Linked DNA regions of Homo sapiens. The protein of the gene in region 1 purifies or fractionates together with the protein of each later gene. This does not show direct contact. Each region holds a gene or a part of one and is shown in the gene's direction. Other genes may lie near its edges. The genes, in order: RAB23 and NUP35.

Region 1 (2,743 bases):
GGAAGGATAAGTAGGAAAAGTAATAACATGCGTACCTTAGGGGTGGGAAAACTGGCAAGGGGTGAAAATCTGGGTAAAAAAGAGCCCTAATGTGACCTCTTTTACAGCCTTGGAACTTTGTACCATGCGTATTAGCTACTAAAAGTAAAACTAAAACAAGAGCTTTAAAATCATAAATCTGTGTCCATTGATGTATGAAAGGATAAGCAAAATGTGGTATATACATACAATGGAATATTATTCACCCTTAAAAAGGAAGGAAATGCTTCAGTGTTCTACGTTGGATGAACCTTGAAGACATTATGCTAAATGAAATAAGTCAGTCCCAAAAAGACACTATTATTCCATTTATATAAGGTAGAGTAGTTAAAATCATAAGAGACAGAAGATAGAATGGTGGTTGCTAAGGTCTGCAGGGAGGGGGAATGGGGAGTTAGTTACTGTTTAATGGGTATGAGTTTCAGTTTTAAAGATGAAAAGAGTTATGGAGATGGACGGGGGTGATTGTTCCACAACATTACAAATGTATTTAATACCACTGAACCGTATGCCTAAAAATGGTTAAGATGCTAAATTTTGTTGGATTTTACTACAATTTTAGAGAAACTGTAAATACTTGAAAATATTACTGATTTTACTAACAAGCTGGATGCAACAGGTAACTCAGGCGTGTCAGTGGCAATCACTCTTTTCCCTCAATTTATACAGGTGTCTTTAATACATCTGGTGGAAGTCACTCCGGTCAGAATTCAGGTACCCTCAATGGTGGAGATGTCATCAATCTTAGACCCAACAAACAAAGGACCAAGAAAAACAGAAATCCTTTTAGCAGCTGTAGCATACCCTAAGATGTTTTGGGAGGAAAACAATTGAATTACATTGTGCAATGCATTAAGAAACCCATCCAGCTGTCATGGTATGTTACAAGGTTTTCAGCAGACTTTGCTCCTAATGGCTCTCTGAAAGTGACAGACTTAAATATTGCTCTGCAGTGCTTTTCAGAATGTAGAGTGAGACCTCTGGTGGAAAAATTATTGCCCTGTGGACTCCTTTAATTTTTTTTACATTAGACGAAGCTTCTCCTGTTTGTAAAGGAATGCTATAAGAAATTTCAAACACAGGTTTTGCGGAATTTTAAATGCTGGAAAACATAAATGAAATGCCTAAATATATTGTTACAGATTTTAATACTGTGGATCAAGGAAAGATAGCAAGCATTCTTTTCCTGAAATTGGTCATGTAGCTTTTCTGCGAAATAGTATTGAATCTGAATACTTTCACAAAATAATACTGAAAGGTAAACCCTAAATCTTGCCAGACTGCATTAGTATTTTGGCATTGAAACTTGTGCAATATCTGTGTAATGTAGAATGTGGGGTGTGCATGCAGATGTCTGGTACTGGAGTAAGCTGAAGGTATGTGCAGTATTTAAGAAAATGTACATTCTAATTAATTCACTTATAAAACCATTTACATATTGTGTATATGTTTTTATTTTCAAATGATAAACTCTAGACATATATTTTGCAAAATGAGCTTGGGTTTAAAAAGTGCTTTGTGCCAAAAATATCATACCTAATTTTTATAGTGCTTTACTATCAGAATTTATATTGTTTATTATATCTTTTAAAAGCAGTAAGCAGTTTTCATCTGACAGCGTAGATAAAAGAGGAGTATAGGAATTTGAATGCTAGAGCATCTCCCAGGTGAGCCTTATTGCAGATCTTTTTGATATAGTCACCCATAAGCATGGTGAGCTCCTGCTCTCATAAGGTCAGCCAAAGCCCCTTAAGAAGGTACACAGCACATCTGCAGTCATTCAGGAGGTCCTGTGAAGTGTGGTGATGCATCTAACACCTTTTGCTGCTCACTGAGAACCCAGCTTTGAACTTACAAGATTACACTAACCATTTTTAAAGTGCACAAAAATATTATTATTAGTCTTAACTAAAATTACATATTTTATAATGCCCTGCAACTCTAAACCATCCTTTTGTTTACACATTTTTGTATGGTATTTTAAGATTATCAATCACTTCAACATTTCTATAACCTTGTTTGTATAGCACTTTCTCAAGAGCTGTCAGTCCCACATACAGAATCATTTCTTTTACAAAATGATTTAATATGTAATCATGTGTCAGGACATAAATTTTGTCACTTGGGACAGTAGCTTTCCAGCTAAGATAATTGCGTGAACTCTGTTAAAACTGATTATCACTCATCAATGGCTTTATTTTTAACCTATAAATAACCCCTTTCAATATACCTGGTTTTTACAGCATTGCAAAATCTGTAAAAATAACTTTTATTGGAAAATGTCATGAAGTCATTTTTCATTATTTGTACTAAACAATGTTTTATGTACTCCTTTTGTGTTTTATCTTTTGTTTTTCCATCTGTACTCCCCTCATCCTCCTAATGTTGAGAAAATCAAATTTCCTGGGTGTGTCCTTGTTAAGTGATCAAAAGTAAATGTTCTCTTTGCCATTTTAGATGGAAAAATAAAAAAAATTAAAAAGTAAATTTTTGCTTTTCATTATATTGAAATGATCTGGCATTATCTATTTCACAGTAATGTAAAATGCTTATTTTTATGTCACCAGTTGTCACCACTCCCATTGCTGATAGTGACATAGGTTTTGGGGGCAAAATTCAGTTCCTAACAAACAGTGGATACTGCTAATGAGTCATCTTTTCTACTCTCTTCAATTTTCTACTCTCTACTCTCCTCTTTAATTTT
Region 2 (3,835 bases), on another chromosome or scaffold:
CTAGATCTAGGGCACTCGTCAGCTGAGAAGTAGTATGGACTTGTCTTTATTTTCTTCTTTTTTTAGGGTCCCCAACAGGGTCCTGATCAGTTGCCCAGGCTAGAGTGCAGCGGCACAGTCATAACTCTGCAGCCTTGAACTCCTGGGTTCAACCAATCCTCCTGCCTCAACTGTCCTATTGGGATATAGGCACGTGCTGCTATGCCTGGCTAATTGTATTTTTTTTTGTAGAGATGAGGTCTTGCCGGATTCAGGTGATCCTTGCACCTTGACCTCTCAAAGCGCTAGATTATAAATGTGAGCCACTGTGCCTGGCCGACTTTTCTTTTAAGTAGAAAATTTAGTAGCTTCATAGACACAAGTGTTGTTTCCTATTATTATTGTGCTTAGTAGGACATATAAACAAAGTTTATCAGTTAAGTTGGTAAGTTCTTTATATAAAGATATGTCTGCTGTTTGCTTTAGATATATGTTTTATGCCTTTCCCTAAATTGTATTTAGTGAAGTTGAGAGTTCAAGAATATTAGAAAGCATTTTTCAGTGGATTCGTGCTATTTATAGGCTTGATATGTCTGGCATACTAGGCTTACTTGTCAAGTAAAGCAAAATTCATTCACTGTGGTAAACAGATTACTGTTTCTTCCCAACACTTCTAGACCTGCCTTCCTGTCCAACAGGAGCCACTAGCTAAGTGTGGCTATTGATACTAAAGATATAGCTAGTCTTTATTGAGATACACTTTAAGTATAAAATACACACCAGAGTTTGAAGACTTAGAAAGAATGTAAGGTATCTTATTTTTTTATGTTGATTACATATTGAAATGATAATGTTTTGGATGTGTTTGGCTAAATATTACTAAATTTCACCTGTTTGTACTTTTAAAATGTGCCTACTAGAAATGGTAAAATTACACGTATGGAATTTATTGTTCCTAATGGATAGATATCCTGGTCTGGGATGGTTTTCTAAAGGTTGATAAGTAAAGCTTATGATTAGTTTGGTATGAAGGCTGGGCGTGTTGGTGCATGCCTGTAATCCCAGCACTTTGGGAGGCCGAGGTGGGCGGATTGCTTGATTTTTATGTATTTTTATTTATTATTATTATTTTTTGAGACAGGGTCTTGCTCTATCACCCAGACTAGAGTGCAGTGAAATGGTCATGCCCCACTGTAGCCTCGACATCCTGGGCTCAAGTGATCCTCCCACCTCTTCTCCCTAGTAGCAGGGACTACAGATGTGGACCACCATGCCTGGCTAACTTTTGTATTTTTTGTAGAGATGGGATTTGTCCTGTTGCCCAGGGTGGTCTTGAACTCCTGAGCTCAAGTAATCCACCTTCCTTGGCCTTCAAAAGTGCTGGGATTACAGGTGTGACCCACTGTGCTGGGCTTTGGGCAGATTGCTTGAACCCATGAGTTTGAGATCAGCTTGGGCTACATGGCGAAACTCTTGTCTCTACTGAAAATACAAAAAAAAAAAGGCTAGATGTGGTGGTGTGTACCTATAGTCCCAGGTACTCAGAAGGCTGAGGTGGGACGATTGCTTGAGCCTGGGAAGCTCAGGCTACAGTGGGCTGTGATCGTGTTACTGCACTCAGCCTGGGTGACAGAGTGAGACCCTGTCTCAAAAATAAAATAATAAAAACTAAAAAATTAAAAAATTGTTTGTTGCAAGAACCACTGGCTTCTAAATTTGTGCAAGGTTTTATTACTTCTCTGATGATACAGACAAAGGCTTACAGATATTGCTGTATTCAAAATGTTTGAAAGACTCGTGGGTCATAATTTATAGAGAATGTTTTTGATTTGAAAGTTGGTAAGAATATTATTGCTAGATTAGAGCCCAAATTAGTTATGCCCCCTGGAATTTGCTCAGTTTGCTTTCTAATCATGAAAGAATTGGCATTAATAATTGAGGAATAAATTTTATATCTCTCCCAACATTCTCTCAGCATTTAGTTCTGGTTGCTAAATGAAGCTATTTGAGATTTCCTTAGTTTAATTAGAATCTGTTTTAAAAAATCTTTATTGAGTTCTAGAGAGATTCTGTTCTCATTTATTGATTGGATATTGTCTTTGTTTTAGAAGGATTTTAAACTATTTTAATCCTTAATTTTCTTATATTTAAAGGAACTAAAATGGATAATTTACCAGTTTTGGAACTTTCTACTGGTAGTGGTAGGGATATGCTGTCTTTTATTGTTTAGACTGATTTGAATCTATAGTGTTTCATGGTTTCTAAGTATCTGTTGAAAATCAAATTTTGTCACCCTTCTGTTTTTCTGTATGAACCTGGTCATTTTAAAAATTACCATTATCTCTGTTATTTCAAATATTGTACATTAGAAACTAAAAACAAATAGTTAACATGTCACCTTTTACAGAAGATAGTCTTTTTTTTTTTTTTTAACATAATATGACTTTTCTTATTTTAAACAAATACTAAGGGATCTAGTAAATTTTAGGTTAATACTGTTTAACTTATGGGGAAAAAAGAGTGCCTTTGTACTTTGAGCTAATTAGAGGCATCTCTAGCACATGATAAAAATTCAGTTATCCATTGAATGAAGCCTTTTAACACTTACTGTATTTATGTTTTGCATTTTTACCATAACACTTTCTTCTGTTTGTGTAGCCAAACATTTCAGTAATGCAGAGTCCTCTTGTTGGAGTTACATCTACTCCTGGAACAGGTAAGTGATTCTTTCTTTTTTTTTTTTTTTTTAAAAGACAGGGTCTGGCTCTGCTACCCACGCTGGAGTGCAGTGGTGTGATCACGGAGTAAACAACTCTGACACCAAATACTTCTCTATTCTTCGAATGAATTTAATATAAAATGTTTGTTGGTAACTGCCAAAATTTTTTATTTTATATTTCAAACTTGGAGATTTTCCAAAATCTATAACTTCTTTCAGGAAGGAAATACTTTGTATATTGATTATTTTCTGAATCAAATCACCCTAAAGGTATGGTGGGGTGAATATTCAGAATGTCTTTTTAAGAAATTGTATACTTAATAGATGTTTGAAGTATCTCCTTAGTTATTAAAACTTGTCAATAAAAAAGCCATTGGAATTGGGATGAAAAGGAATAGTTAAGACACTGAATAATAAAGGTGTTTTGAGAGATGTTAATGCATAGTTATAAATCTAAATGCCGTTGAATAGAAGCAACCACTGATTATATACCTAGTTTTTCTTTAAGATTAATGGCTTTTTAATAATCATCATTATGCTTAGCACAGTTCTTCATATGTCGTCATATGTGTATAATCCCATCAAATGTTTATTCAGCAAATATTTGAGCACCTAACTGTGTACTCTGGGAAATAGTAAACAAAATAGATATTCCCTGCCTTTATGGAACTTACATTTATTTGCAGAATTTACATTTATAAACAAAACAAGTAAATTATAACATTTGTTAGAAGGTATTACATTTTGTGGAGGAAAAAATTAAGCAGCAAAGGGGGGGAGGGGGTAGAGACTTAGAGTTTTAAATAGGGTAATGTATTAGTTTTCTGTTGCTGCCATAACAAACTACCACAAACATAAAAGTGGCTTAAACAATACACATTCATTATCTTTCATTTCTGGAGGTCGGAAGTTTGAAATGGGTCTTGGTGGGCTAAAATCTAGACATTGGTAGGGCTGTGTTCATTTATGGAGGTTCTAGACAAAAATCTATTTTTCTTTTTTTTTTTGAGATGGAGTCTTGGTCTGTCGCCCAGGTTAGAGTGCAGTGGCACCATCTCGGCTCACTGCAACCTCCACCTCCTGGGTTCAAGTGATTCTCCTGCCTCAGCCTCCCGGGTAGCTGGGATTACAGGTGCT

Evidence for each region.
Region 2: the proteins of RAB23 (region 1) and NUP35 purify together in Homo sapiens (affinity purification with mass spectrometry; one large-scale study listed by BioGRID and IntAct). This does not show direct contact.

Annotation. Positions count from the first base shown.
Region 1 is NC_000006.12:57,188,566-57,191,308, reverse strand, and holds part of RAB23 (ras-related protein Rab-23), read left to right. Parts: intron 1-708; coding exon 709-848; 3' UTR 849-2,743. UniProt on the Homo sapiens protein: The small GTPases Rab are key regulators of intracellular membrane trafficking, from the formation of transport vesicles to their fusion with membranes.
Region 2 is NC_000002.12:183,130,929-183,134,763, forward strand, and holds part of NUP35 (nucleoporin NUP35), read left to right. Parts: intron 1-66; exon of another isoform or gene 67-189; intron 190-2,637; coding exon 2,638-2,695; intron 2,696-3,835. UniProt on the Homo sapiens protein: Functions as a component of the nuclear pore complex (NPC).